2 separate regions of the Homo sapiens genome follow, and region 2 is linked to region 1. A link means that fine-mapping ties the variant in region 1 to the expression of a gene that starts in the linked region. Tissue or cell type: whole blood. Region 1 holds a variant in brackets; the other region holds the start of a gene. All regions are shown on one strand. Distances are from middle to middle.

Region 1 (4,353 bases):
AGAGGAAGATGAAAAGAGAGGAGAGGAAGGGAGAAGAAGAAAGAAGAAGAAAAAAGAAGAAGAGGAAGAAGAGGAGGAAGAAGAAGAAAAAGGAGGAGGAGGAGGGGAAGGGGGAGGGGAAGGGGAAGGGGAAGGAGAAGGGGAAGCAGAAGATTCCTGATCTTGTCACTCTTCTTTGATGTGCATTTGCTCCCAACATGCATCTACATGCCCAGCTGGAGAGCCAAGATGTAAATGCAACCAGGCCATAATCCACCTTTCCAACCTAATTTCCCAGAACTCCCTTATACCAGTAATTCAGTCTTTTCAGTCCAATTAGCCTTACAAATTCCTATCTCCTGTCTCCATTCACAGAATCTCAGAGTTGGAGAAATCAGAGGTCATCTTGTCCAACCACTCACCAGATGCCTAAGTCCTTAAGTTGGGCTGACATCTTACTTAGTTGAACTTCCATTCATTTTCTCAGTTGGGCTCATAGAATAATGTTCTATGTTATAAAAGGTATAAAAAGAAATACTGTCAAAGAAAAGAGAAAAAGAAGAAGCAGCACACTCTGAACTCAAAGTTAAGTTCCCACTTATTAATTATATTACTTATATTTTAAAAGAATATTTAAATCCAATTGCAAAACATTAAGTCTACAGTGATCCCATTTTTGTCACCCCCACAAAATGTGTGTGTGTGTGTGTGTGTGTGTGTGTGTGTGTATGCGTATATATACATAGAAAAAAGTCCCTGTGTAAATCTTTAAAGTTTCTTTGAAGGCAAAGTTATGGGTACCCTTTATTTCTACACTTGTTTATTTGTATTCATAATTTTTATTCAATTAAATTTTATTTTCTTTAACAAATGAAGAAAATTTGTATATAGTATGTTTGTACATATAAGTAAATATAACTGAGGTGGCAATTAGTTATCAAGTGACACAAAAATTTGCAACAGAACAAAAAATAAAAATTATTTTGTAAATGTACATTGGAAAATTGGGTTTAGCATATTTAATCAAACATGTGGAAGGCTGGACATGGTGGCTTATGCTTGTAATCCCAGCACTTTGAGAGGCCAAGACAGGCAGATTGCTTGAATCCAGGAGTTTGAGACTAGCCAAGCTGGGTATTTTTCTGTCTCTACAAAAAAAATACAAAAATTAGCCAGACACAGTGGTGCACACTTGTGGTCCCAGCTACTTGGGAGGCCAAGGATGGAGGATCGCTTGAGCTCGGGAGGTTGCAGTGAGCTGAATCATGCCACTGCACTCTAGCCTGGGTGATAGAGTGAGACCCTGTCTCAAAAAAAAAAAAAAAAAAAAACGGAACAAAGGAATTGATTATGATCGAATGTTTCCCAAGAAAGAGAAATTAGCCTTAATGGGATCATAGCCAAACCACAAAACATAAATTTGATATTGAGGTTACAGCATACAAAGGGCTGGACTATCCTCTGGGACAATTATCATTTTTCCCTTTGCTTAAATCTTCACTCAGCTCTTGCAATGTATTATGTCATGCATTCTGCTAATCCTTGGGTGGGAATTCAAAGATGACTAAGACGGGGCCCGAGCCCTTAGGACACTCACACATTTCCTATTTGGCTAGAAAAGCAGCCAAAGCTCCAGTAGGCAGCCTGATGGTCTCCTAGAAGGCATTTTTGAAAAAGACTTCAGTTAACCATGTTCCATTGTCTCTCCACATCTCACATTCACTGACACACCTAAAAGAAAGGCCCAAGAGGTCCTTTTGTGTTGGCATCTTCAACTTCTGATATTGTTGGCACCTCAGTAGATGCTATGCGTCTCTTGCTGGTTGGTTTTGGTATCTTGCGAGGGCATATTAAATATTGTTAGCCAAAG[A/C]ACTCCCCTCCTCAAGAAAATGCTTAGTATCCCCAAGGTCAGCCTCTGTCCAAAAACAAGTCTTCTTTACCTTTCCACTTGACCCAATAGCCATCGGCAAGGATGTGCAAAAGGATTCCACACTCTTTTCTCTTTTGACTAATACTTAGTGCTAAATTCCTGGTCACAAAGGTGAATAAAATCCTTAGTACTAAATTCCTGGTAACAAAAGTGAATAAAGGATTTGCATTCATCAAACTATCTTTGAAAGCTCTTACCCCCTCTTGCTACTCATCCAACTCAAGAGCAAACCTCCAAAATGTCCCTGAACCAGTACACTTCTTTCCCTTCTCCATTGTTGCCATCACCATCCAAGCCACCATCCCATCAACTCTCCCTGGACAACTGCAGTAGCCTCCTGAGATGACTCCCTGCTCCCCCTCTTAATCCACTATAAGTTCTCCTCTGATGAGACACCAGAGTGATCTTTTTAAAACATAAATTAAATCATGTTGTCACCTGCTGAAAAACCTCCTACTGCATATAAATTCAACTCCATATGCCCAACCTGGCTTACGCAGCCCCACAGTACCTGCCACTGCCTACCTTTCCCCTCACAGTAAGTTCCCCCTTTCATTAAGCTCTTTCATCACCTTGCTCTCCCTTTTGTTTTTGGAGAATTGGTCAAGTTCATTCTTGCCACAGGGCTTTTGCTCCAGCCTTCCCATCTGTCTGGCATGGCTGGCTCCTTCAGGTCATTCAGATCTAAGCTTCAATGTCACCTCCTCAGAGAGGCCTTTCCTGACCCTCTTTTCTATCATGTCAGCCTATGCTGAGTCTTTCAAAGCACTCATCATTATCTGATAATTTCCTTGTTTACTTATTGCTCCATTTTTTCTCTGTCACTGCTGCTAGAATGTAAGCTCCATGAAAGCAGTAACTTTGTGTGTCTTGCTCATTGGCTGTACTGGATTGATGCCTGGCATAAAGTAGACATGAAACAAATAATTGCCAAATAAATGTGTTAAATGAGTAAAAGAAGATGGTTGTCACTCCATAGTTAAGTGACTGAATCTTGTATTCACTACATTCATTCATTCACTAACTCATTGAGTTTTTATTATATGCTTGGTACTATTTTTAAAAATAAACAGGCCAGGTGCTGTGGCTTACATCTATAATCCCAGCACTTTGGGAGGCCAAGGTGGGTGGATCACCTGAGGTCAGGAGTTCGAGACCAGCCTGGGCAACATGGTGAAACCTTGTCTCTACTAAAAATACAAAAATTAGCTGGGTGTGGTGGCACACACCTGTAGTTCCAGCTACTCGGGAGGCTGAGGCAGGAGAATTGCTTGAACCCAGGAGGTGCAGGTTGAAGTGAGCCGAGATCACGCCACTGCACTCCAGCCTAGGTGACAAAGTGAGACTCTGTCTCAAAAACAAAAACAAACAAACAAAATAAATGCAGCTAATTGCTATCCTCATGAAACTGAGGTTTCCTATACTCAAAGGAGAGAAATATATCAAATAAAACTTTCTAACGTGATATGCTAAGTGATATGCTAGAGATGTGCAAAAGATGGTTGGAGGTGTTCTCACAGGGAATGTGAGGCTTTACCTGTATTTTTAAGAATGAATTCACCAATGCATTTTAGAGAGAAGGGACAAGAGAGACTTGAGAACATCATGGCAGATGGGAGGCAGGACAGTTTGCAGCTCCCACTTGGACAGACAGAGCAGTGTGTGGACACTCTCATCATGAACTTTTGCTCCAGAACTACTGCAGGAATAAATCAGGAAAGCCAAGAAAACCCACAGACCCTCTGAAGGAAGAGGATTGCTCCTGCAGGACCTGGGAGACACCCCAAACACAGTGATTGCCCAAGCTGTGGAACTGGGAAAGGGGGATTGTCTGCCCCAGAACACACACCCTTGTAAGGCCTCTGAGCCCAAGCTAAGCCACCATATCCCCAGTGACCTGCACATATACATCCAGATGGCCTGAAGCAACTGAAGTTCCACAGAAGTGAAAATAGCTTAACTGATGACATTCCACCATTGTGATTTGTTTCTGCCCCACGCTTTGTAATTTCTTAAGAAATTACAAAGAAATTTCTTTGTAATTCTCCCCACCTTTGAGAATGTACTTTGTGAGATCCAACCCCTGCTCCCAAAACATTGCTCTTAACTCCACCACCTATCCCAAAACCTATAAGAACTAATGATAATCCCACCACCCTTGCTGACTCTGTTTTCGGACTCAGCCCACCTGCACCCAGGTGAAATAAACAGCCTTGTTGCTCACACAAAGCCTGTTTGGTGGTCTCTTCACACAGACACATGAGACATTTGGTGCCGAAGACCCGGGTCAGCGGGACTCCTTTGGGAGACCAGTCCCCTGTCCTCACCCTTACTCTGTGAAGAGATCCACCTACGACCTCAGGTCCTCAGACCAACCAGCCCAAGGAACAGCTCACTGATTTTAAATCGGGTAAGCAGCCTCTTTTTACTCTCTTCTCCAATCT
Region 2 (4,145 bases), 50 kb after region 1:
GCAGTCTTGCTGGGTTTTCAGCTAGTGGTGATATGTGCGAAAGGAGCCACTGCACATCTTGACCCAGAGATAGTGGAAGGGGAGGGCATTCCTCTGAGAAGGCAAAATACTTGACTGGTTAAGTCTTCCAGAACCTTGAAAGGAACTTTTTTTTTCTTTTTTTAAGATGGAGTCTGGCTCTGGCACCCAGGCTGGAGTGCCGTGGCGCGATCTTGGCTCACTGTAACTTCCGCCTCCCGGGTTCAAGCGATTCTCCTGCCTCAGCCTCCTGAGTAGCTGGGATTACAGAAGCAAGCCACCACACCCAGTTAATTTTTGTATTTTTAGTAGAGACGGGGTTTCACCATATTGGTCTGGCTGGTCTCAAACTCCTGACCTCGTGATCCTCCTGCCTCGACCTCCCAAAGTGTTGGAATTACAGGCATGAGCCACTGCATCCGGCCTGAAAGGAACTTTTATCAGTGTATCTTCTCTCAGCTCCTCATGAGGCTTATCCTGGGTGGTGTGTGCTGGAGGCTGGGCAGAGGGTGCTTCTTAGACAACTTCCAAGGTAAGTTCATAGGCAACATTTCCTTTGCTACTCTCTCTTTTCTTCTCTCTCGTCCTCAGGATTACCCTCTGCATCTTTTCCATATGAAAACCCCATTTCCTCTTTCCTTTATTGAATGCCCCTCAAAATCAGAACTTACATCATTAGGCATTATTCTCTATTTCCTTGATGATATGGAGGATGAGATTTTCAGACACTATGCAGAGGTAAGGGGAAATATTTATATTCTGCATGAGAGTTGGGAGAGGGGAGAAAGAAATCCTCCACCCCAGATCGGGTTAATTCATCAAAGCAACTCATTAAATTTTCGTGTTAAAAGAAGTTGAACATTCACACTTCGCTCTACTTGGAGCTTCATTAAAATGCAAATGAACACAGAAGGGTATCTGTTCTTAGTTATCTGGCCTAACTAAAGATTAATTGCAAACCCTTTCCTGAGAGTAATTTTTGATAAATGAGAACTAGGGGGAAATTAGGTGCTTGAGAGAGATGCAGAAAGGGCACAGCTGGAGGATGTGACAAGAAAAGAATTGGAAAGACTATGGGAAGGTTTTGCTGTAGCACTGCACAACTAAAGTTATATTTACTTCCTAAACCACAAACTTAAAATACGCATATAATTATACTTTCCAAAGAAATATCATGGTTTATTCCTTCCAACTACCTATGAATCTTGCTCTCAGTAACCATGCCTGTCTTCTCCATAGTCACACCCACCTGGTCTAAACTATACCTTTCTCTTTTGCAACAAACTTAAATTCACTAACCCTATCTGTGAACTTGGATACAATTCCCTCATCTTTCATGTGCCACCAGTCCAAAATAAAGATTTTCAATGCTAGTAACTTTATGTATACCTCAGTGAGCATCCAATAAATTCTGTACTCTCAGCCTACATCCCCATAACTGCTCTTTTGAGAAGAGATGAGACCAGAACACACCTGAGATGTTCAAAGCAAAGATGTCTAAGGGATTCAAAGCTAACTTCAAACCAGAGCATGTCTAGCAAGTTGGCTTTTTCAAAGAACTCCAACATCATTGGAGGGACTAAGAAAGCATGGGAGAAATGAATGCTATAATAGGAGTGAATGGGAAGCAATTTGAGACCAAAAGTAGAGAATCTAAGTAGCAAAAAATGACCAATTTTGTAAAAAAATCAAAAGTTGCCAATAAATGGCTATCAATGAACAATAGGAAATGCCATTAGCATCAGCGGTAGTGGGAGTATTATCAGATATGTTACCCAAGGATTCTACACAAAGGAAGAGGAAAGTTTGGGATATTTGAAGACATGATGACTTTACTGTAATAATTATTATCTATTACCTTGATCGTCTTCTTCAAAGTTAGAGTGGTCTAGGGAAGCTAGGGACAAGTTTTTATTAACTTTGTTAGTCTACCCACCTTTCTCCCAACACTTCAAGAATTTGTGGCCTGGGAAAACTGTGTTATAATAGGACATCCCAAAGCTGCTGGAACATCCTGACGCTCTGAAATTGAAATACTTTTCTGGGAGCTGATACATTTATTTAGCTGCTGACCATAACACACCAAAGACTGCAACAGACCCCACCCTGGAAGAAAAGCAGGCAGAGAATAAGGAAGTCATATATCACTGGAGAAAAATTAGGATTCTCCAAGCTGTGCATACTTTTTGTTTTAAATTTTTTACACAGGCTTGACAATGTTTAGAAAAGCCAGTCCAACATTACCAATAAAAGATTAGTGTTTAACCCCATATCCCATAATTGACACTGCAAATAAGACATTTAGGATTTATCTTGAAATTCCTACTGAAGTTCGATTTTCTTTTAATCACTGCTAAATCTGCATCAAGTTACACAAACTTTCTAACAGAAAAGTGTTTGTGACTAACAATAAATGAACTCCGTTCTTAGTAAGTTAATTTTAAAACATAGATGATCATTCTATCTCCTTAGTTTTGGTTGCCAATGCAAATGAGTCAGAGGATTTGCTTCAGACACTGAGATAATTGTGTAACTCTACAGCGGAAAATGCCATTGGAGAGTACTTGCTGACCTCACAGTTGAAAAAAACTATTTAAAAGATGTGGAAACCAGATGTTTCAGTCACATTTCAGCCACTGCTCTGAGAATTTGTGAGCAGCCCCTAACAGGCTGTTACTTCACTACAACTGACGATATGATCATCTTAATTTACTTATTTCTCTTGCTATGGGAAGACACTCAAGGATGGGGATTCAAGGATGGAATTTTTCATAACTCCATATGGCTTGGTAAGAACCTTCACTCATGAGCCTCTTGTTGAGAATGTCAATTCTTTAAATCATGGAGAAGGAAATTTAAAGCAGTAACTTTTTCTATTCTGTACAAGGCTGATGTTCTCAAAGAAAATGCTTAGGAAAGATAGCCTTTGGAATACATACGCTTTTTTTTTTTTAAGCGTTCTTGTCCTCTAAAATTTAAAAATAGCATTTTATAAAGTGAATTGTTCAGTAGAAAATAGCAGTTAATATTTATATTCAGTATGAAAATATATTTTTAAACTTTTCAAAGCAGATGTAGTAGTACAGTGAGGAGTATTTCTTTAACCAACTAGAAACTCCAATATAGTCTTCTGTTTTTATGTCAATGCATTTGCAATCAGATTTCAGAATCCTAACAGGTAAATTGGAGTCTACGAAAATTTTATAATAATTGCTTCATGGACTCTGAGCTATAGTCTATATCTTAGTTTTTTCAAACATTTTGACTATTTTGACCAAGCCAGCTTGCAGTACAGAAAAAAGTGAAAAATGTTTCTCCTTCTGAATGCATTCTTACCACTTTGATTCTTTCTGTTTCTACTATCCATATAAATACTTTTCTGACCCTTTTGTTAGACAAGGAAAGTTTCTTTTGTTATTTTGTTTTGTTAAATGTAAGGAATGAGACAGGCCAAACAGTGAAGATAAACAATAGATCAAAAAAGGAAAATGCAGAAAATCCAAAACACCCCTTAGATTACAGTATGCTAAACAATGCTTTAATTCTCATGATACAAATTGATATTGCTCTATGTTCATTATTGTGTTTAATAGTAAAAAAAAATTGAATTTCTTGGGGAAAAATGCATAGATTCTTGCATAGAATAAAGAAATAAAGAGAAGGCGAAATTAACCTAGATTTTGATTTTATGCTTTCTAAACAGCACAGTTGTAGAATATTTTCCCTTTCAGCATGTTTCTCTCTGGTAATAACTGCAACCATGCGGATTTCATTAAAAAGCCTAATTTGTAATGCACAGCCTTGCCGCCTATTTTTTTCAGCTTGAGCCAGTGAACTAATTTCACTGTGATCCATTTGGCCAAGACGGGATCTGAAATTTAGTAGAGGAATGAGCCCATCTCTTTATTTTAGTTGAATACAGTCAAATATAGGAAATACACTCATATTTGTCAGGATTTTTTTTAAATGTCATAAAGCTAGTAAGAATTAAATCCAGGCAGATAAACTTTGAAATATTATCAAACCCTCTAATAATCAAGTAATTTAGAGTTGTCTTTTAAAGTGTTGTCATATGTTACAAAAATATAAACCTGGACAATAGAAGTTTTGCCCCAGAGGTAGAGAGA

Evidence for each region. PIP is the estimated chance that this variant, and not a neighbour inherited with it, causes the effect.
Region 2: it holds the start of TNFAIP6, and the variant in region 1 is fine-mapped to the expression of TNFAIP6 in whole blood (TOPMed, PIP 0.98).

What each region holds. Positions count from the first base shown.
Region 1 is chr2:151,305,307-151,309,659 of GRCh38, forward strand. It overlaps LOC107985827 (a long non-coding RNA gene), which reads right to left and starts at 1,593. Exons shown (of 3, transcript XR_001739220.1): 1 at 1,577-1,593; 2 at 402-487. The variant A/C (reference allele first, on the strand shown) is at 1,850.
Region 2 is chr2:151,354,954-151,359,098 of GRCh38, forward strand. TNFAIP6 (TNF alpha induced protein 6) reads left to right here and starts at 2,639. Exons shown (of 6, transcript NM_007115.4): 1 at 2,639-2,807. The coding sequence starts at 2,714. The region is part of intron 2 of LOC101929319 (a long non-coding RNA gene); the gene reads right to left.